Homo sapiens: one gene and its partners. The protein of the gene in region 4 interacts with the protein of the main gene of each other region in a pairwise test. Each region holds a gene or a part of one and is shown on either strand. Other genes may lie near its edges. The genes, in order: SFT2D1, STAP1, SLC39A6, RETREG3, MFF, DHRSX and CMTM7.

Region 1 (3,159 bases), on a different chromosome or scaffold from region 4:
CTGTGCATAAAATGCTGCTCCCATTACCCTGTTGTATGCTCTTTATTAACTCTCCCTACCCTGGACAGACATAGAGCCGCCTTCCCTCCTGCTGGCACCACATCATGCTGGCACCCGCCTATCTGCCTCTCCCTGGCAACTGAGGAGACCAGGACAGCCAGTGGGAGACTTGCAGGGAGGAGGAGGGCGCTGGCTAGTTCTCCGCCCTCTCTGCTTCTCCTCCAGCCTGGGGTGAAGGTAGCTTCCTGCTGCCACTACTGTCCAGTGGCCTGACTTCTCCTGACACCCTCACAGTCAATGCCGCCTCACCTCCTCCCCCTGCACTTCCTGGAATGGGCTCTGCTGTCAGTCCCATTATCTCTCACAATTTGTATTTAACAGTATTATTTAGGGGAGAGACTGTATCTTCCTCATTTTTCTACAGAGAGACTGTATAGTGCCTAAACTAAATATTATTGAATTGAGTCACTTAAAATATTATAAATTTGATTCAGAAAATGTTATTTTTCCAAGGATGGGTTTATTTCAAAATTGTAAAGATTTATATATTATTTTTATTACATATAATAAGCAATTTTTAGCTTAAAATAAGTTTCACATTTAAAGTAAAAAAAATCTTAAAAATGCAGACATTTTTTAAAAGCAAAAAAGTTTAATTATCTTGCAGCACAGGTCTACCTTTAAATATTCACATTTCAAAGCTGCTTTGAAAAGATTTAAAAATTGGCTAAAAATAATTTACAACTGGCAGTGATTAAAAATCTTATCTTTGGAAAAGTATATTAATGACACATAATGAATTTAAAGTTACAAGCATTTAATGGTTTAATCAAGCATGTAGTTTTTACCAGTATACAAAATGAGACTTAGTACAAAACGGTCTTCAACTGTCACGTCAGTTGTTCCTGGAGTGTTTTATGGGGAAAAGCAAACTTCACCAAACATAGAGTACCAACATTCAAGTGCTCTTTTCCACAAGTTTCTGATTTTCAACTTAGGAGAGAAGAACAGCATTTAATAACTGCATCCCTGGTGGAAAAGAGAGGGAAAAAAACAGAATATAATATTCCTCAAAAGCAAAGTTGCGCAAAATGTTCCTGCTAAATCACCTTTTTTAACAGAACTCAATGGATGCTCCAACACACTTTTTGATTAATAAAAACTTTGTTCAGTATCATTTAAGATTAAGAGCTAAGATTTGAAAACATTTTGCTGATTTTTGACATGGTATTTATCTTAAGAAATTTTTACTGGCATATACACTGATCTCAATCAAAGAAATAAGTTTAAATACCAAAAATAACCTAACAAAAGATCTAACTTTTTTCTTTTTTTTTCCTTTTGAGACAGGTTCTCACTCTGTCTTCCAGGATAAGTGCAGTGGCGTGAGCAGATCCTCCCACCTCAGCCTCCCAAGGAGCTGGGACTATAGGGCACACCACTACACTAATTTTTTTTTTTTTTTTTTTAATAGAGATAGGGTCTTGCTATGATGCCCAAGCTGGTCTCAAACTCCTGCGCTCAAGCCATCCACCCGTCTCAGCCTCCCAAAATGCTGGGATTACAGGGATGAGCCACCAAGCCCAGCCCAAAGATTTAATTTTTAAAAAGAACTAGGCCAGGCAAGGTGGCTCACGCCTGTAAGGCAGGTGGATCACTTGAGGTCAGGAGTTCAAGACCAGCCTGGCCAACATGGTGAAACCCCATCTCTACTAAAAAACACAAAAATTAGCTGGGCGTGGCAGCGGCAGCACGTGCCTGTAATCCCAGCTACTCAGGAGGCTGAGCCAGGAGAAACTCTTGAACTTGGGAGGTGGAGGTTGCAGTGAGCAGAGATCACGCCATTGTACTCCAGCCTGGGTGACAAAATGAGACTCCATCTCAAAAAAAAAAAAGAACTAATGAACTGAGTTTCAAAACTGTAATGTTTATAACTGAATCCTCAGAATTAAAAGAAGATTGAAGTGTGACCTTTCATATTTTCTTCCAAAACTGTTATTACTTGATACTTCATTCATTAAAAAAGCTTTTACCTAGGCCATAAAAAATATCCACTAATAAAATTCTTATAGGCAAAATCTGTACATTGCTTATTGCTCTCGAGTGTGGGATCCTGTGTCTGGAGAGGCTGGTCATGTTCTTGAAGTCCTGCCATCTCTTCAGAGCCTCTTGTATGGGACATCACGTCTAGAGGTCCTTTCCTCCGCACCAAGAAGTATTGGAGGTCTCCTTGCTCTAAAGTTCCTATGCATGGTAAATTACCCTTGCACACTCCTGTTAAGCAGCTTTCTCACCTGTAGCTAACTTTGTTTTGCTTTTTCTCCTTGTAAGTATCTATCAGAAAGAATCATACATTTGAAATGGAATAAAAATAAAATTTCTACCAATTTCCTTCACTGTTCGTATTAAAGACAATTTTGCTGTTTTTAAATATATAACATATCTTTGAATTTCACAAACAGGCAAAGCTGTGCCTCACCAGAATCTTTTTCTAAATCTATCAGATTTAAAATTGGAACTAGTTTTGTTTTCTCCTCCACGGCTAAATACATTTCTCTGGAAAAATATTTTAAAATGCCGGTTACCTCTTGACATACAATTAAAATGTTTTTGCTGACCAAAAATAAGCATTTATGTGTAAGCCCTCATTTTCCCAGTAACTTCCTTTTTTATTGAGATGGAGTCTGGCTCTGTCACCAAGGCTGGAGTGCAGTGGCACGATCTTGGCTCACTGCAACCTCTGCCTCCTGGGTTCAAGTGATTCTCCCACCTCAGCCTCCCAAGTAGCTGGGATTACAGGCGCCCACACCACACCCAGCTAATTTTGTATTTTTTAGTAGAAACGAGGTTTTGCCATGTTGGCCAGGCTGGTCTTGAACTCCTGACCTCAAGTGATCTGCCCACCTTGGCCTCCCAAAGTGCTAGGATTACAGGTGTGAGCCACCGCACCCAGCCGTAACTTCCTTTTCTTAAGTAGAATTTGTTTTCCTGGAGTCTCTGTGTCCTATTTTCTGAACTCCTAAAGCCATGGAAGGGTCCAGAATCTCATCCACATTCCCTAGTGCACGCCAGGCAGCAGGGCGGGAGGATACTCCCCACAGAGCTGCTCCATGTCGCCAAAATGTTTCCATACAGACATTATCATGGCAAGCTGCTATT
Region 2 (3,500 bases), on a different chromosome or scaffold from region 4:
TGACTAGTTTTTTTCACTCTGTTAAAAAATACTTGTACTTTCTCAATCTGACCTATAATTACATAACAAAATAATTAAAATTTATCTTGCAAGTTGTTTTGTTTCTTTGCTTATCCGACCAACTCTTTTTAAGGCTTCCCCACCCTGCATTAATGGTAAGCCTCTGCAATGAAAGGAGTAAATCAAGGCTCTCCTGTTTTTTGGAGCTGGGAAGCAGGTGAGGAACAGTGCAGGAGGAGATGGGAATGTAGAGAAATGCATATTGTTCTGAGAACTTTATCATCTGTGTAGTTTGTTTGTTTGTTTGTTTTGAGATGGAGTCTCCTGTCACCCAGGGTGGAATGCAGTGGTGTGATTTTGATCTCTGCTCACTGAAACCTCTGCCTCCCAGGTTGAAGCCATTCTCCCACCTCAGCCTCCCAAGTAGCTGGGATTACAGGCACATGCCACCATGCCTGGCTAATTTTTGTATTTTTAGTAGAGGCAGGGTTTCACCATGTTGGCCAGGCTGGTCTCGAACTCCTGACCTCAAGTGATCCACCCGCCTCAGGCTCCCAAAGTGTCATTTGTGCAATTTTACTAAAGTATGGCTTCTAAGATCTAGTCCAACTCCAGGATTGTATGATTCCTGGAGGAAAAAAATACAAGAGAAAACCCTGAAGTCAAAGCCTACCACTCTGTTCATCGTCCTAATCAGCCTCATAACTACAGTATTACCCTGCCATAAGGTATAAAAACTAGTATTACTGATAGCCAGTAAAGGTTTATTGAATTCCCTCTGTATGTACATGCAGACCTCCATTGCACTATCGAGAAAAATTGTAGAGGTGTTCAGTCTCAAAAGAATGATATGAATTGGGTAAAGTTAAATAGGGAAAAATGGGAGTTTTACAGGTAAGCAAACGTATATACTTGTGGAAAGGATTAAGGATTTATTAAATGGGGGGAAAAGCAAGTATAAAGGCACTAAGTTGAAAGCAAAGGCAGCCCTGGAGGAAAAGTAAGGTTACAAATAGCATTAGACCATGTGAACTGCAACCACAGCTGCAAACCTAAGGACAGACCAAACTTATATTCAGTATGCAGAGACTTACAGGTCACAATCTTGATTTCATTTCGATAAGATGTAATAAATACACATAGAATCTGAGTCATTTATAAATATCAATCTCAATAAACAACATCTAGGTACCTATTCATATCTAGAGAAATACTTAAAAATTAAAAAAATTAATTTGGAAGGACATATCTTTGGAATGAAGCACAAATTTCTTTTTTTTTTTTTTTAACAATCGTTTGTGTGAAATCATTGATGTAAGAAAAGAGGCTGAAATAAGACTTCTGAATTTATCACTAGCTTAACTAGGAAACCTACAATCAAATGGTAGAATTTGAGTTTGAGAAGCAGCATGGTCAAGTGCATCACAATCAAATCCAAGCTAGCCTCCTTAATGGAAGAGGAACCTTGAATAACCTCTGTGGCCAGAACTCACTCATTTGTTTATTTGGAGTTGTTGTTTTAGAGAGACAGGGTCTCGCTCTGTTGCTCAGGCTGGGGTGCAGTGATGCAATCATAGCTCACTGCAGCCTCGAACTCCTGGGTTCAAGTGATCCTCCCACTTCAGCCTCCCGAGTACCTGAGAATACAGGGTGTGCCACCACGCCTGGCTAATTTTTTGATTTTGTAGAAATGGGGTTTCGCTATATTGCCTAGGCTGATCTCCAACTCCTGGCCTCAAGCAATCCTCCTGCCTTGGCCTCCATAAGTGCTGGGATTACAGGGATGAGCCAGCATGCCTCACCTACTCACTCATTTGTGAAGTGAATAAAATAATTTCTACCCAGAAGAGTTACTGTAAGGATCACAGTGACAGAACACTAAGAGCCTAGAATGGGATCCATTATATGTTATACCTCAAAAGGTTGCATTCATTATTATATAGTCCACTTAGTCATTGGAGCAACCTATTCAGCTATGCAAGAGAGTAATTATTCTTTTTAGAAAGGAGAGAACAGATTTAAAAATGTGAAGGAATCGCCCAAATTCTAGAATTGGACTGATACTTTTATCTCTTGACTTCCCAGTGCTCTTTTCTCATTAATACAACTAGCAAAAATGAATTAACTAGCAAAAATGAATTACAATGCAAGCTCCAGTTAAGTTTCTCTTCCTCTGTCCCCAATAAAAAGCTCTCATTCTTTGTTTTTGTGCGCAAGTAAAGTACATTTACCTAAGGAAGAATGTTGTATAGTGGTCTCCAAAATGGGATGCATAAATTCCAAAGGTGTGCAAGATGATCCATTGGGAGAGAAAATTTTAGAATATTTAATTATATTTTATTTCATATTTCTTAATTCATTTTTTATATATCAAATAATTTACATGGATTAATAGTACGGGAATATATATATTTATAATTTCCAAATGAATTAATATTCTTTTTTTGTTGTTTTTGAGATGGAGTCTCCCTCTGTTGCCCAGGTTGGAGTGCAATGGCGCAATCTCCGCTCCCTGCAAGCTCCGCCTCCTGGGTTCACGCCATTCTCCTGCTTCAGCCTCCTGAGTAGTTGGGACTACAGGCGCCCACCACCTCGCCCGGCTAATTTTTTTTTTTTTTTTTTTTTAGTAGAGACAGGGTTTCACCTTGTTAGCCAGGATGGTCTCAATCTTCTGACCTCGTGATCCGCCCGCCTCGGCCTCCCAAAGTGCTGGGATTACAGGCGTGAGCCACCACGCCCGGCTGAATTAATATTCTTATATTAGGGATCTGTGCTCAAAATGTTTTCCTGAAAGGAGTGTGTTATTTTAAAATTTGGAGATTACTGCCATAGAGAACTGTGTGTGAGCACAACTTAGACAGCCCTAAAAAATTTCCTTTTTTTTTGAGACGGAGTTTCGCTCTGTCACCCAGGCTGGAGTGCAGTGGCACGATCTTGACTCACTGCAACCTCCGCCTCCCAGATTCAAGCGATTCTCCTGCCTCAGCCTTCCGAATAGCTGGGACCGGGCCCGGCCCACACACACTGTTTTTTTTTTTTACTTTAGCACATCACAGATTGAAGAAATTATGAGACGTTGCCCAAACTATCTCTTATTTTCTTTCTTTTTCTTTTCTTTCTTTCTCTCTTTCTTTCTTTTTTTTTTTTTTTTTTTTTTTGACAGAGTCTCGCTCTATTGCCAGGCTGGAGTGCAGTGGCGCGATCTCGGATCACTGCAACCTCTGACTCCCAGGTTCAAGTGATTCTCCTGCCTCAGCCTCCCGAGTAGCTGGGACCACAGGTGCGTGCCACCATGCCCTGCTAATTTTTGTATTTTTAGTAGAGACGGGGTTTCGCCATGTTGAACAGGTTGGTCTCCATTTCCTGACCTCGTGATCCGCCCACCTGGGCCTCCCAGAGTGCTGGGATTACATGCATGAGCCACCGCTCCCGGCCCACCCACACTCTCTCTTATTTTCAAACGGTCCCAGAAAAAATGAGAAATTTTCCCATTTGTAAGA
Region 3 (2,155 bases), on a different chromosome or scaffold from region 4:
GTCTCATCACAAGCTCTCCATCGTAAAAATCTTGAATTAAAACACTGACTCTCTTGAGAGTGTAGAATATTAATAATGCTTCTTCTACAGCTTTAGGTCCAGTTGTTAAAAAAAAAAAAAAAAAGAGAGACACCCGAAAACAAACTGTGGACCAATATTTTTTGAAGTGTCCTTTGTGATAAACAATTTAAAAATTGAATAAGGCCACCCAATACAATATTATAAATGAATTGATTAGTATACTACAATCCAGATGATAATTTAAAAATTCAGATAGCTCAATTTTTTAGGAACAGAAAGTAGAATGGTGGTTACCAGGGGCTAAGGGAAAATGGGGAGTTGGCGTTGAGTGGGTATAGAGTTTCAGTGTTGCAGGATGAAGAAGTTCTGGAGATTCATTGCACAACATGAATATACTTAAAACTACTGAACTCTACAGTTAAAAATGGTTCCAATGGTAAAAAAAATTTTTTTTTAAAAAGAAAACCAGACATCTGACGTCAAGCTGATATAAGGAATTTATTGTGTAAAAAAGAAACATCTAGAGAATGCCACAGACAGGCCTAGTATGGCTACAGTACCGTATATAAAAGACAATTGCTCACAATGATAGCACTGAAGCACTGAGAGATATCAAAGTACTTTCTGAATCGAATCAAATGATACTTAGTGTAGTTTTAATATCCTCATATATATCAAAGTTTTACTACTCTGATAATTTTGTAAACCAGGTAACCAGAACATCCAGTCATACAGCTTTTGGTGATATATAACTTGGCAATAACCCAGTCTGGTGATACATAAAACTACTCACTGTACTCATCTGGTATATACCCGCACGAACATTTTGAAATTCCAATTTCTTGGTCAAGTGATATATTGCTTGAATTCATTAAATATATTTAGATTTCTGTATTATACAAAGTTAAATGTACAACTAAATTAGTATATGAAAAGTGCTCACTACGTTTTTACGGGAAATAATCCTGACAAAAATGTTTAATGAATGTACTCTATACTAATTCTGCCTTTTTATACTTAATTCTAAATTTCTCCCCTCTAATTTACAACAAATTTTGTGATTTTTATAAGAATCTATGCCTCCCCAATTCTCAGATTCTTCTCTTTTCTCCTTTATTTCTTTGCTTAAATTCAGTATAAGCTTTCTTGGTATTTTAGGCTTCATGCACATTCTTATTCCTAAACACCAGCAGTTCTTCAGAGACCTAAAATCCAGTATAGGAATAACTGTGTTAGTTCTTGAAAAAGCATTAAAGACATTTTTCCCTGAAACATACAGAACATGTCATGCCAAATCTCTTGTTTACATAATAAACTGGTAATACCGGTGAATTGCACATACAGATTTTATCTCCAAGATAGAATAACTTAAATATTAAAACGTACCTTTAACTGACTTTGTAACAGACAGCAATATTCAATACAAAAATCACAAAACCCACTAACTTTAAACGCTGCATAGTACAGCATACAAACTCATCTCCCTATGACCTACTGAAACTATGACAACTTTTTAAGCTACTCTAGCATTTAAACCTTAACTAGAAATTTATACGAAACACGATTTTATGTTCAAATATGGAAATAAGTAACATAATTCCAAAACCCAAAAGCATCCCAGCATTCTGTAAAAAGAAATACCCCCAGCGGCTACATCCATGGTCACTAGCATCATTGTGCAGCATTTCAGGTACCTTTAAAAAAAAGTAAGGGAAAATAAGAGTGACATTTAAGTTTTTAGAACTACAGATTAGTTTTTAGAAAAATTTATAGGACAGTATACTAGCTTTATTTGTAGCTAGATATACTGTGAGTTAATTCCTTAAAACATGATTACATACATACTGACTCTAGCTAACAATGTCACACAGCATTTCCTAGCAGTTTAACAATGATTACTCATGATGTTCTGGGCAAGAAAAAGTTTGTATTGGTTCCAGTTTCCACTGGAAAATGAAAAGCGATATTGATTTTCCTACTTCAGTTACTGGCTGCATATCTGAACTGGATATAACATGTAGTTTGTCTTTAGTTCAGAGATAGAAAACCTTATACTATATAAGATACATATTGTCTTTGATTGCTTACAAAGTAAAAAATAAAAATAAAATAATAAAATACAATTTTAGCGGTA
Region 4 (3,500 bases):
CTGGGCACAGTGGCTCATGCCTATAATCCCAGCACTTTGGGAGCCTTAGGTGGGTGGATAACCTGAGATCGGGAGTTTGAGACCAGCCTAGCTAACATGGAGAAACTCCATGTCTATTAAAAATACAAAATTAGCCGGGCGTGGTGGTGTATGCCTGTAATCTCAGCTACTCAGGAGGCTGAGGCAGGACAATCGCTTGAACCCAGGAGGCAGAGGTTGCAGTGAGCTGAGATTGTGCCATTGCATTCCAGCCTGGGTGACAGAGTAAGGCTCCGTCTCAAAAAAAAAAAAAAAAAATTATACAACTAACATGAATTCATGTTTATCGAAAAAAAAGTACAGGCATGGTGGCTCACGTCTGTAATCCCAGCACTTTGGGAAGCCAAGGCAGGTGGATCACCTGAGGTCAGGAGTTCGAGACAAGCCTGGCCAACATGGCGAAACCCCGTCTCTACTAAAAATACAAAAAATTAGCTGGGCATAGTGGCGGGCACCTGTAATCCCAGCTACTCAACAGGCTGAGGTGGGATGACAGCTTGAGTCCGGGAAACTGAGGTTGCAGCGAGCCGTTATCGTGCCACTGTACCCCAGCCTGGGTGACAGAGCGAGACCCTATCTCAAAAAACAAAAAAGCAAAACAGAAAAAACCACCTAAACACTAACAAATTGGTTTGTGGGGAAAAAAAGAGTTTAAAAAAAAAACAACAAATAAAACCACACACAACAGGCCACATGTGGTACCTAAAGCCTGTAATCCCAATACTTTGGGAGGCCGAGGCAGGAGGATCACTTGAGTCAAAGAGTTTGAGACCAGCTTAGGCAACACAGCAAGACCTCATCTCTACTGAAAAGAAAAACATTAGCTAGGTGTGGTGGTGCACGCTTGTACTCCCATTTACTTGGGAAGCTGAGGTGGGAGGATTGCTAGAGCCAGAAGGTTGAGGTTGCAGTGAGCTCTGATTGTGCCACTGCACTCCAGCTTGGGAGACAGAGCAAGACCCTGTCTCGAAAAGAAAAAAAAAAGTATCATTTATGACATTTATAAGAAAATTGGAAATGTGAACACTGACTAGAATCATTAATTTTTTGCATGTGATAATGATGGCAGATGTTTCTTAAAGTCTCTTTTTCAGAAAAATATACTGAAATACCTAGATTAAATGATATGACACATCAATAATTTGTGTCAAACAATAAGGAAGACGTAGAAAAGAACTGGGGTATGGAAGACACAAAATTGGCCAGGAATTGAAAAAAATAATATTATGTACATGGTGGCACACAATATTATTCTGCCTACTTACACATGTTTTAAGCTTTCCATAATAAAATATTTTTAAAATGATCCATTATCCACATATGTACTCTAAAAAGTGTGAAGACAGGCTATTCTCTTCATTAAAAAATTCACATATAAAAACACTATGGTTTTAAAACTTTTTCACATAATACATAGACAATTAGCCTGATGTGGTGATGAACTCCTGTGGTCTCATCAGCCATGAGGTGGAATGATCACTTGAGCTCAGGAGTTCCAGGGTACAGTGAGCCATGATCACACCACTGCAATCTAGCCTGGGTGACAGAGTGAAACCTTCTCTCAAAAAAAACAATGAATGGGCCAGGCGCAGTGGCTCAAACCTGTAATTCCAGCACTTTGGGAGGCTGAAGCAGGTAGATCACTTGACATCAGGAGTTCAAGACCAGCCTGGCCAACATGGTGAAACCCCATCTCTACCTAAAAATACAAAAATTAGCTAGGCATGGTGGCGGGTGCCCGTAATCCCAGCTACTCAGGAGGCTGAGGCAGGAGAACTGCTTGAATCCGGGAGGCGGAGGTTGCAGTGAGCTGAGATTGTGCCACTGCACTCCAGCCTGGGCAACACAGGAAGACTCCATCTCAAATAAAATAAAATAAACTAAGACGGTGGCTCAAGCCTGTAATCCCAACACTTTGGGAGGCTGAGGCAGGCAGATCACGAGATCAGGAGATCGAGACCATCCTGGCTAACACGGTGAAACCCTGGCTCTACTAAAAAATACAAAAAATTAGCCGGGAGTGGTGGTGGGCGCCTGGAGTCCCAGCTACTCGGGAGGCTGAGGCAGGAGAATGGCGTGAACCTGAGAGGCGGAGCTTGCAGTGAGCCGAGATCGCGCCACTGCACTCCAGCCTGGGCAACAGACAGAGCGAGACTCTCTCAAAAAAAAAAAAGAAAAGAAAAATAAACGAAAAATAAACTAAGAAGGTTCCAACTTTTTTTTTTTTTTTTTTTTTGAGACGGAGTCTTGCTCTTGTTGCCCAGGCTGGAGTGCAGTGGCGCGATCTCGGGTCACCACAACCTCTGCCTCCCAGGTTCAACGGATTCTCCTGCCTCAGCCTCCCAAGGTAGCTGGGATTACAGGCATGCGCCACCATGCCCGGCTGATTTGGCATTTTTAGTAGAGATGGGGTTTCTCCATTGTTGGTCAGGCTGGTCTTGAATTCCCGACCTTAGGTGACCTGCCTGCCTCGGCCTCCCAAAGTGCTGAGAATTATAGGCATGAGCCACTGCGCCCAGCCAAAAGTTTCCAATTTTTTGATGTAATAAAAGCTGAACTATACATCACTGAGCATGTTACTGGGTCAAAGGCATTAACTATTTTAAACAAATAGCTTTATTGGTCGGGCACCGTAGCTCACACCTGTAATCCCAGCCTTTGGGAGGCCGAGGCAGGTGGGTCACTTGAGGTCAAGAGTTCAAGACCACTTTGGCCAACATGGTGAAACTCCATCTCTACTAAAAATACAAAAATCAGCCAAGACATGGTGGTGCACGCCGGTAGTCCCAGCTACTTGGGAGGCTGAGGCAGGAGAACTGCTTGAATCTGGGAGGCAGAGGTTGCAGTGAGCTGAGATCATGCCACTGCACTCCAGTCTGGGCCACAGAGTAAGACTCCGTTTCAAAAAAAAAAAAGTAAGAAAATAGCTTTATTGAGATAATGGTTTGTATACGATAAAATTCTCTTTCAATTCATCTGCCAGCAGCAGAGATGAAAAAAAAATCACAATGCTGTACGACTAATAGCCTTATGTAATTTCAGAACATTTTCATCACTCCAAAAGAAACCCATACCCATTAGTATTCTTTCTCCATTTCCCCCAGCCCTGGAAAAGCTTCTTAAGTGGCTTAAAATATGTTACCAAACTACTTGCTAGAAAGGCTGTCCAATTTATGTTCCTATCAGCCATATGCCCATTTTTCCATATTTTCCCCAGAATTAATTATGATCATTAAAAATACTTAAGGCCAGGTGTGGAGGCTCACACCTGTAATCCCAGCACTTTGGGAGGCCAAGGTGGGTGGACTGCTGGAGCCCAGGAGTTCAAGACCAGCCTGGGCAACATGGTGAAACCTTGTTTCTACGAAAAATACAAAACAATTAACCAGGTGTGGTGACACACACCTGTAGTCCCCACTACCTGAGAGGCTGAGGTGGGAGGATGGCTTGAGCCCAGAGGT
Region 5 (3,500 bases), on a different chromosome or scaffold from region 4:
CTTCTTCACATGTGTGTATGTCTGTGTGATACTCGAGGCTGTGGGAGTACATATTAAAAAATATGCATGTGCAACTGCAGTTCTAAGAAAGGATTTATTACAGAATACAGGAAATACGTATGCAGGGATGCTGTGCAAGCTGCAAGGAGCGGTTTCCAAAATGGAGTTATTAAACACAGTAACAAAGGTTCCAAAGTAATTGTTCCACATTTCAAAAGCCAAACAAGCAACTGATGGCTGTACTGGTTTGCTAAAGATTCTTTGTTACTGGCCAGAATTACATTAATCTATCTTGGTAATACTGTTTTACGGTGATCAAAACATGTAAATGGTAGTTTAATATATCTTTAATCAAAATGAGAAAATCAATGATGGCTTACTAGTTTGATAGTCCCACAGGAGAGAAAATAATAAAATGTTGAGAACTATCACTTTAAAATATTGTATGAATATAACTGAGAAATATATCTTATTTGGTACACTAAATACCTGTCGTCTTAGTGAAGCTGCATCTACAACAGTCAGGTCATCTGACGTTCCTTCAATGGTTGTATCTATATTTGAAATGCCATACCTGCAGATAAGAGATAGAAATACAAATGAATAGTAAAGTAGAACTCAGAGTAAATGGCACGCCACATCATGCTTTGTGTAATGCTCAAAGTAGTATTCAGAAAATTGGTACTTAATAATATGAATTACTAAAATATTTTACTACCTGAATTTGTACTAATAAAGGAAAGAAAAAAGCTTAAAATGACAACTGTCTACAATATTGAAAAAGGGCACTAAAAACTGGAGAATGGGAAAAAAATCCTGACTAAAGAAACACATAGAAAATTCTCAAGCCAGAAGGATTGGCGATGCTAAAAAGGGTCCCTGGCTGAAAAGGTTTGAGAGCTGCCACTTAGGATAGAACAAAATATAATTCTTACACAAACTTATGTCCATATGTAAGCCCATAGGCACAGACTCACTAGCAGGGAACACAAAGTAGACTAACTCTAAAAAAAGAAAGACTCATCACCTCTTCTCACTGCCTCTTGTCTTGCCATTTTTATTCTTTACTTCTTGTCTTTTTATTTTTTTGAGACAGAGTTTCACTTTTGTTGCCCAGGCTGGAGTGCAATGGCACAATCTCGGCTCATTGCAACCTCCACCTCTGGGGTTCAAGTGATTCTCCTACCTCAGCCTCCCAAGTAGCTGGAATTACAGGCACCTGCCACCATGCCCGGCTAATTTTTGTACTTTTAGTAGAGATGGGGTTTCACCATTTTGGCCAGGCTGGTCTCAAAGTCCTGACCTCAGGTGATCCACCCACCTCAGCCTCCTAAATTGCTGGGATTACAGGCCTGAGCAACCACGCCTGGCCTATTCTTTACTTATTTCCAATTACTTATGCTCTACTGTGTTCTCCCGCAGAAACAATTATAAAATCTCCTGAATACATCTTACCACTACATTTAGCTCCAGAATTGGCCCAATAATGAATAAAATGCTGTGTATAAAATAATACTGAAAAACCATTAAGACAAAATCCAGAGAAAGCATATTAAAAAAGTACTTTTTGTTCCAATGTAGTTACTTCTAAAGCGGCACTAATTTCTAGGTGAATGACACTAAACCTCTGAAAAACAAAGACAAACGCCATTCCTCTTCTTTGCCTGGATTTCCACATTTTAAAATTTAGTTTAATTAATAGCTTCATTGAGATACAACTTATATAACCACATAATTCACCTCACATGTATTTTATACCCTAAATGGTTATTTTAGTAAAATGGCATAGTAAATTTTCTAAATGAGCAGAATATAAATAAACTAAATTAAAAGTTATTCCTGTGTAGTCCAGAGAATTGGCAAATGGATCATCTATTCTAATACCTATCCCAGCAAGTCCCCACTACAAAAAGTACATACCCACAAAAAGGGATATGAAGCAGAATTATACTTTTCATCCAGACATGTTAAAGACAAGTCTACTCAGAAAATCCTTTTGTTTTAAATATTGTTAAAAGTAATAAAAATACTTTAATAAAGTATGCAAAAAACCTTAAACAATAGATGGTGTGTACTGACTCTAGATAATCTACAACCATCTCCAAATATTCCTTCTATGGCTAAATTATCCTGCTTTCTCATTAACTGTCTCCTTATTTCATGAGAACACAGTAAACAACCTGGAGCAGTTAGGGTAATTATACCAGTTAGAGAAGTAAACTTCTAAGTTAGTAGATGCTGGAACTATGGGTTTACAAATGATTAGTGGAAAAAATAAAGGTAGAAGATTCCCTTTTCCTTCACTTCATCCTCAAAATAAAACTCTTCTCTTTCTCTGAGGCCACATAACAGAGGAATAATTAGGAAAAAAATCAAACAGAAGCAATTGTTAAAGGGATCTGAACTGAACATACAGAATGAAGTACAAATGAAAGCGATTACTCACAATTTATATCCTGAATTAACTAAGGTTTAGATATCTGAAATCTCGATTTGCAAAGAAATATAAGGATATGACAAAAGATTTTACCTATATACTTCAATTTAAAACAAAAATATGTTACTTTACATTGTGTTTTAAACAAAAACCGTATTTATTAGAACTAAAAAACTCTAATGCTAAGTTAGACCACTGGCTGAAAATACTCTGACAGAAAGATAAAAGATCACAAACTTAGAGAAAAATATAAGGGAAAACGACAATGAACTGAACTAAGATTGTAAAAAGAAACAAGTCAGCAGAGTGGTAAGGGATTACCACAGGCACGCTTTTCAATTCCTCCACCATGAATTCAATTTTAATGAGCAGCTAATGCTTCCCTTTTCTCTTGCTTCAATGAATGCACCAACTTCTAAGCACAGAAACGATGCTGCCAGTTTTAAATCTACTGCTACCGACAATATATTTCTGCTTAAATAAAACTGACTGAAAAAATTATACAGTAATAGCATCTGTGAATACCAACAAGTTTTTGATTTTTTCCAGACTATAGGAAAACTAAATGGGGATTTTGGCACTTAAGAACTGCATGTATTTGTATGTGCCATTCTGCCAGCCTCTGTGCGTGTCAGGAAGAAAGGAACGCTCAACCTACGCGTGTCTGAAAGTGTAAAAAGGGCAAAAATAAGAGAGAAGGCCTTAAATCAACAGATGATAAAAATGCTTAAAACTAAATTTCCTTTCTAAATATGTACCTTCCCAAACTGTGGAGTTGTTAATGCTGATTTCTCCCAATTTAAGATGAAGCCTTACAAACAAAGACAGGTTTGTTCACACACTAAAAGTAACATTCCAGATAATTAACAACTTAAAAGGAAATGCTGGGCACAATTCAGGCAACCATTAAAATGATGTACATAAAATAAGATTTAAGACTTTTTTCTGTTTTAGCATGTAAATTATTATAAACCACCTATAAACTATTAACACTACACTTAAATAAAATAGCTGTTCACATCATACCATAATTATTAAACATTTTCCCTCATACTAATTGGCC
Region 6 (3,500 bases), on a different chromosome or scaffold from region 4:
ATTTATAAGCCACCCAAACTATGGAATTTTTCTTTCTTTTTTTTTTTTTTTTTTGAGACGGAATTTTGCTGTTGTTACTCCGGCTGGAGTGCAGTGGCGTGATCTTGGCTCACCACAACCTCCGCCTCCCGGGTTCAAGCGATTCTCCTGCCTCAGCCTCCCGAGTAGCTGGGATTACAGGCGTCCACCACCACGCCTGGCTAATTTTGTATTTTTAATAGAGATGGGGTTTCACCATGTTGGTCAGGATGGTCTCGATCTCCTGACCTCGTGATCTACCTGCCTCAGCCTCCCAAAGTGCTGGGATGACAGGCGTGAGCCACCACACCCGGACTGCTGGATTTTTTCTTATATCAGCTTAAACAAACTAAGATGATTATTCCCACAGAGGAATCGTTTTTATCCTTAAGGCGGGGTTAGGAGGAATTCACAAGAGAGACCTGCTGATGGACAGACAGTACATTGCGTGTCGACAGGAGTCCACACCAATGCCACCTGCAGATGCAGTGCCTGACATTCCCATGGGGGCACAAGAGAAGGTTTAAATAGATCCGTTTTCCTTTTCTATGTCTCACCTCTGTGTTTCTTGTTCCTTCTAAAAAATAAAGTAACAATACCATCGCACATTGCTAAGTTGCCCAAGGACAGCAAATGGCTGGGGATGTACATATCCCACAACACAGCGCCAGGAGCACCTGTGCCCGGCAGATGCAGGCAGCACCATTTCCAGAGCACATGTGCCCAGCAGATACAGGTAGCAGTGTGCCCAGAGCACCGCTACCCAGCAGAAGCAGGGAGCACCGTGCCCAGAGCACCTCTACCCAGCAGACTCAGGGAGCACCGTGCCCAGAGCACCTGTGTCCAGCAGACTCAGGGAGCACTGTGCCCAGAGCACCTCTACCCAGCAGATGCAGGGAGCACCATGCCCAGAGCACCTGTGTCCAGCAGACTCAGGGAGCACTGTGCCCAGAGCACCTGTGCTCAGCAGACGCAGAGAGCACCGTGCCCAGAGCACCTGTGTCCAGCAGACTCAGGGAGCACTGTGCCCAGAGCACCTGTGCTCAGCAGACGCAGAGAGCACAATGCCCAGAGCACCAGTGCCCACCAGATGCAGGGAGCACTGTTCCCAGAGGACCATGCCCAGCAGATGCAGGGAGCATCGTGCCCAGAACATCTGTGCCCAGCAGATCCAGGGAGCACCATTTCCAGGGCACGTGCGCCCAGTAGACACAGAGAGCAGTGTGCCCAGAACACCTGTGCCCAGCAGACACAGGGAGTACCGTGCCCAGAGCACCTGTGCTCAGCAGACACAGGGAGCACCGTGCCCAGAGCACAATGCTCAGGAGATGCAAGGAGCACCGTTCTCAGAGCACCCATGCCCAGCAGATGCAGGGAGCACTATGCCGGGCACCAATGTGCAGCAAATGCGGGGGCACTGTGCCCAGAGCACCCATGCCCAGCAGACTCCAGGGAGCACCGTAGCCAGAGCACCTGTGCCCAGCAGATGCAGGAAGCACCAGTGCTCAGCAGACGCAGGGAGCACTGTCCCCAGAGCACCAGTGTCCAGCAGACACAGGGAGCACTGTCCCCAGAGCACCAGTATCCAGCAGACGCAGGGAGCACTGTCCCCAGAGCACCAGTGCTCAGCAGACGCAGGGAGCACTGTCCCCAGAGCACCAGTGTCCAGCAGACGCAGGGAGCACTGTCCCCAGAGCACCAGTGCTCAGCAGACGCAGGGAGCACTGTCCCCAGAGCACCAGTGCTCAGCAGACGCAGGGAGCACTGTCCCCAGAGCACCAGTGCTCAGCAGACGCAGGGAGCACTGTCCCCAGAGCACCAGTGCTCAGCAGACGCAGGGAGCACTGTCCCCAGAGCACCAGTGCTCAGCAGACGCAGGGAGCACTGTCCCCAGAGCACCAGTGTACAGCAGACGCAGGGAGCACTGTCCCCAGAGCACCAGTGTCCAGCAGACGCAGGGAGCACTGTCCCCAGAGCACCAGTGTCCAGCAGAAGCAGGGAGCACTGTCCCCAGAGCACCAGTGTCCAGCAGATGCAGGGAGCACTGTCCCCAGAGCACCAGTGCTCAGCAGATGCAGGGAGCACTGTCCCCAGAGCACCAGTGTACAGCAGACGCAGGGAGCACTGTACCCAGAGCACCAGTGTACAGCAGACGCAGGGAGCACTGTACCCAGAGCACCAGTGCTCGGCAGACGCAGGGAGCACTGTCCCCAGAGCACCAGTGTATAGCAGATGCAGGGAGCATTGTCCCCAGAGCACCAGTGCTTGGCAGACGCAGGGAGCACTGTCCCCAGAGCACCGGTGTCCAGCAGACGCAGGGAGCACTGTCCTCAGAGCACCAGTGTACAGCAGACACAGGGAGCACCGTCCCCAGAGCACCAATGCTCGGCGGACACAGGGAGCACTGTCCCCAGAGCACCAGTGCTCGGCAGATGCAGGGAGCACTGTCCCCAGAGCACCAGTGTACAGCAGATGCAGGGAGCACTGTTCCCAGAGCACCAGTGCTCGGCAGACGCAGGAAGCACTGTTCCCAGAGCACCAGTGTACAGCAGACGCAGGGAGCACTGTCCCCAGAGCACCAGTGCTCGGCAGACGCAGGGAGCACTGTACCCAGAGCACCAGTGTACGGCAGACACAGGGAGCACTGTACCCAGAGCACCAGTGTACAGCAGATGCAGGGAGCACTGTCCCCAGAGCACCAGTGCTTGGCAGACGCAGGGAGCACTGTCCCCAGAGCACCGGTGTCCAGCAGACGCAGGGAGCACTGTCCTCAGAGCACCGGTGTACAGCAGACACAGGGAGCACCGTCCCCAGAGCACCAATGCTCGGCAGACACAGGGAGCACTGTCCCCAGAGCACCAGTGCTCGGCAGATGCAGGGAGCACTGTCCCCAGAGCACCAGTGTACAGCAGATGCAGGGAGCACTGTTCCCAGAGCACCAGTGCTCGGCAGACGCAGGAAGCACTGTTCCCAGAGCACCAGTGCTCGGCAGACGCAGGGAGCACTGTCCCCAGAGCACCAGTGCTCGGCAGATGCAGGGAGCACTGTCCCCAGAGCACCAGTGTCCGGCAGATGCAGGGAGCACTGTCCCCAAAGCACCAGTGCTCGGCAGACGCAGGGAGCACTGTTCCCAGAGCACCAGCGTCCAGCAGATGCAGGGAGCGCCACACCGCACAGACAGAGGGAGATGAATAACCTTTAACCCACCTGAGATGCTGTTATGATTATTCACAGGGTGCACCTACCTGCTCTGAAGGTCATCCATGTTCAGCTCAGCGACGTAATGGGTGGCAGAGGAGACGGTGACCACCCTCGCACTGTGGCCAGGGGACCCAGACTCTTTCAGCGTATCCAAGAGAAGGTTGGTCAGCAGGAAGTGCCCTAGGTAGTTCAGGCCGAAATGTTCTTCGAATCCATCTCTGGTTTTCCTCTGAGGGACCATCATCACCCCAGCTGGACAAAAGAGAATATCAGAAGGAGTT
Region 7 (3,500 bases), on a different chromosome or scaffold from region 4:
CAAATGGCCAAAAGCACATGAAAAGATGATTAACATCATTAGTCACTGGAGAAATGAAAATCAAAACCACAGGAAATAACACTTTACACTCACTAGAATGGCTGGAATCAGAAAGTCAGATAATAAGTGTTGGCAAAGATGTTGTGAAACTGGAACCTTCATACACTCCTGGTGGGAATGTAAAACAGTGAGCCACTTTGGCATACAGTCTGGCGGTTCCTCAAACAATTAAACACAAAGTGACCATATGACTCAGTAATTCCCCTCCTAGATACATACCAGAGAAAAATGAAAATATGTCCACACAAAAAACTTGTATATGAATGCTCATAGCAGCATTATTCATAATAGCCAAAAGGTAAAAACAACCCAAAGGTCCACTGAAGATGAATGAAAAACAAAATGCAGTCTGGTCTATCCACACAATGGAATAAAATTTGGTTATAAAAAGGCTGGCATGGTGGCTCATGTCTGTAATCCCAGCACTTTGGGAGGCCAAAGTGGGAGGATTGCTTAAGGCCAGGAGTTTGAAACCAGCCTGGGCAACACAATGAAACCTCATCTCTGTAAAAAAAAAAACACAAAAATTATCCAGGTGTGGTGGCATGCACCTGTAGTCTCAGCTACTCGGGAGGCTGAGGTGGGAAGATCACCTGAGCCTGGGAGGTTGAGGCTGCAGTGAGTCGCGATCACGTCACTGCACTCTAGCCTGGGTGACAGAGTGAGACCCTGTCTCTAAAAAGAAAAAAAGGAATGAAATACTGATACCTGCTACAACATGGATGAACCATGAAAACATTCAGCTAAGTGAAAGATGCCAGTTACAAAAGACCACATATACAATTCCATTTACATGAGACGTTCAGAGTAGAAAAATTTTAGAGACAGAAGATTAGTGATTGCTTAGGACTGGAGGGATGAGTGGTAGGGAGGTGACAGCTAAAAGGTATGGAATTTCTTTCTGAAATGATGAAAATGTTCTCAAGTTGACTGTAGTAATGGTTGGACAACTCTGGAAATATACTAAACTCCATTGAATTGTACCCTTGAAATGGGTGAACAATACGGCATATGAACTGCATCTCAATGAAGCTTTAAAAAATAATACAGTGGGAAGAAAAAGTCTGGCAACTTCTGACTGTCTCCTCAGCCCCCACTAGTCTCTTTTAGCCAGAAAATCCTATCATTCAATCCTCACAACAGCATCAATACCCATCATCTTCACCTACAATTTCCTTCCGTGTTCCTTTTCCCAACTCATACACACACAGCCATTCTCTGTTGCTTGAGAAAGTAAGCATGGGGCAATAGCCACAGCCTTCTTCTTTTTTTTTTTTTTTTTTTTTTTTTTTTTGAGAGGAGTCTCGCTCTGTCACCCAGGCTGGAGTGCAGTGGCTCGATCTCGGCTCACTGCAAGCTCCGCCTCCCGGGTTCACGCCATTCTCCTGCCTCAGCCTCTCTGAGTAGCTGGGACTACAGGCACCCGCCACCACGCCCGGCTGATTTTTTGTATTTTTTAGTAGAGACGGGGTTTCACCGTGGTCTCGAACTCCTGACCTCGTGATCCGCCCGCCTCAGCCTCCCAAAGTGCTGGGATTACCAGCGTGAGCCACCGCGCCCGGCCAGCCACAGCCTTCTTGTAGCTGGAAAGTGAGTTTTAAAAACCAGCAGGACATCAAGCAGAGATGTCCACCAAACAATAGGAAATTCAGGGCAGAGGCAGCAAAGAATGGTTAAAGAGGTGAGATGGGCAGACGGGAAAAACTCTGTCAGGTCTCAGTACTCTAGCTAACATCCTGACTTGTGCATGCGGAGGACAGGGCCAGACCACTCTCTTACCGACAGGGGCCAGCTGATACAGGTGAGCACGCGGTAGAAGCGGAAGAGGTGGACCAGGTAAAAGGCGAGGATCATTATCAAGTCGCAAATGGTGACCACTTCAAAGTAGCTGTAGGCGCTGTAGTTGGTCCACAGGGAGCTCCGCACACAGATGAAGGCAATCAGCAGGGTGACCTGCCACATAAATAGAGACATCAGAGAAATGCTTGCCCAAGACGGGCACCCAGGGAACAAACAACGGAAAACAACCAAGCATCCCCCAGCAGGCCCACATTGAAGAACTGCTATTAATACAATTCAGGTTATTTCCATACACACTGGCTGGAAGGTTGGAAGACTGCAACTTCATGTGGTACACACTTTGAAACTACTGTCTGTGAACACTGATGACAGCAGAGACTGACTTCGTCCTCTCTGAAGTTTGTTAGATTGTGCCAGCGGGAAGCCCCCTCAGAAGAAGCAGGAAAACAAGAAAATAACAAAGCAGAACCATCCCTTTCATCTGCTGGATATCCATAGAGCAAAGAGGACAGCGTGATGGTGACCTGGGGTTTACATATTAGGCCCAATTGTACGAAGTTGCCAATATTTGATGGTTTTTGACCTACAAAGATGGTAATTCATACCTTACAGCTATCAACTGACAGATAACAAGTTACCATTTACTGATGTCTGACATACGTGATCTCGCTAAGGCCATGCAGAACCCTGCCAGGTAGACAAAATCATCCCCATGTTCATAAGGGGAAACGGAGGCATGCAGGTTCAATCATCAGTCCAAGGCTATCTGGCTTGTAAGCAGAAGTGGGATTTGAATCCAGGTCTGTCTGACTCTAAGGACCATGTTCCTCCATGTCAGATGCAGTTCTACCTCCCAAAAGTGTAAGCTCTGATCATAACAAGCCGAGAAAGGTGGACGGGTTCTCAACCATGCAGGAATCCTGTTTAAGAGGTGAGGCTGCTCACCATCAGGGCATGTGGTGAGAGCTCACTAAGAAATATCTCAGCACGAGTGAACATGCTTAACGGCCTGCTACTGAATTAATAACCAGATGAAAACTATTAGCAATGCATGAGTACAAGAAAGTAGAATGAGTAACAGTCTGAGCTTCCGTGAAGGCCAAAGAGAAAACCTGTCTACTCCATGTAGGGAACAAACCAGTAACACACGGGATTCAATGTGTGTAAAATCTTAGAATCTACTTATTTATTTAGTTATTTAGTTTTTGTTTTTCTGAGATAGAGTCTGGCTCTGTTCCCCAGGCAGGAGTGCAGTGAACCAATCTCAGCTCACTGCAACCTCTGCTTCCTGGGCTCAAGTCATCCTCCCACCTTAGCTTCTCAAGTAGCTAGGATTACAGGCGTGTGCCATCATGCCTGGCTAATTTTCATATTTGTAGTAGAGACGGGGTTTTGCCATGTGGCCCAGGCTGGTTTCAAACTCCTGAGCTCAAGCAATCCCCCTGCCTTGGCCTCCCAAAGTGCTGGGATTATGGACGTAAGCCATTGTTTCCAGCCAGGAATCTATTTAAAATGCACAACCAATTTAGAAAAAAGATTATTTTATACACTGCCTCTCTCCTATGGAGGAGTGATTCTTTTTTTTTTGAGATGGAGTCTCACTCTGTTGCCCAGGCTGGAGTGCAGTAGCATGATCTTGG

Evidence for each region.
Region 1: the proteins of RETREG3 (region 4) and SFT2D1 interact in binary tests that used the Homo sapiens proteins (3 or more experiments, as listed by UniProt).
Region 2: the proteins of RETREG3 (region 4) and STAP1 interact in binary tests that used the Homo sapiens proteins (3 or more experiments, as listed by UniProt).
Region 3: the proteins of RETREG3 (region 4) and SLC39A6 interact in binary tests that used the Homo sapiens proteins (3 or more experiments, as listed by UniProt).
Region 5: the proteins of RETREG3 (region 4) and MFF interact in binary tests that used the Homo sapiens proteins (3 or more experiments, as listed by UniProt).
Region 6: the proteins of RETREG3 (region 4) and DHRSX interact in binary tests that used the Homo sapiens proteins (3 or more experiments, as listed by UniProt).
Region 7: the proteins of RETREG3 (region 4) and CMTM7 interact in binary tests that used the Homo sapiens proteins (3 or more experiments, as listed by UniProt).

The regions. Positions count from the first base shown.
Region 1 is NC_000006.12:166,319,228-166,322,386, forward strand, and holds the end of SFT2D1 (vesicle transport protein SFT2A), read right to left. Parts: intron 1,030-3,159; coding exon 990-1,029; 3' UTR 501-989; downstream 1-500. UniProt on the Homo sapiens protein: May be involved in fusion of retrograde transport vesicles derived from an endocytic compartment with the Golgi complex.
Region 2 is NC_000004.12:67,561,727-67,565,226, reverse strand, and holds part of STAP1 (signal-transducing adaptor protein 1), read right to left. Parts: intron 1-3,500. UniProt on the Homo sapiens protein: In BCR signaling, appears to function as a docking protein acting downstream of TEC and participates in a positive feedback loop by increasing the activity of TEC.
Region 3 is NC_000018.10:36,108,031-36,110,185, forward strand, and holds the end of SLC39A6 (zinc transporter ZIP6 isoform 1 precursor), read right to left. Parts: intron 1,716-2,155; coding exon 1,563-1,715; 3' UTR 501-1,562; downstream 1-500. UniProt on the Homo sapiens protein: Zinc-influx transporter which plays a role in zinc homeostasis and in the induction of epithelial-to-mesenchymal transition (EMT).
Region 4 is NC_000017.11:42,599,375-42,602,874, forward strand, and holds part of RETREG3 (reticulophagy regulator 3), read right to left. Parts: intron 1-3,500. UniProt on the Homo sapiens protein: Endoplasmic reticulum (ER)-anchored autophagy regulator which exists in an inactive state under basal conditions but is activated following cellular stress.
Region 5 is NC_000002.12:227,352,751-227,356,250, reverse strand, and holds part of MFF (mitochondrial fission factor), read right to left. Parts: intron 575-3,500; coding exon 490-574; intron 1-489. UniProt on the Homo sapiens protein: Plays a role in mitochondrial and peroxisomal fission. Promotes the recruitment and association of the fission mediator dynamin-related protein 1 (DNM1L) to the mitochondrial surface.
Region 6 is NC_000023.11:2,263,477-2,266,976, forward strand, and holds part of DHRSX (polyprenol dehydrogenase), read right to left. Parts: intron 3,472-3,500; coding exon 3,264-3,471; intron 1-3,263. UniProt on the Homo sapiens protein: Oxidoreductase that plays a key role in early steps of protein N-linked glycosylation by mediating two non-consecutive steps in dolichol biosynthesis.
Region 7 is NC_000003.12:32,440,353-32,443,852, reverse strand, and holds part of CMTM7 (CKLF-like MARVEL transmembrane domain-containing protein 7), read right to left. Parts: intron 2,014-3,500; coding exon 1,840-2,013; intron 1-1,839.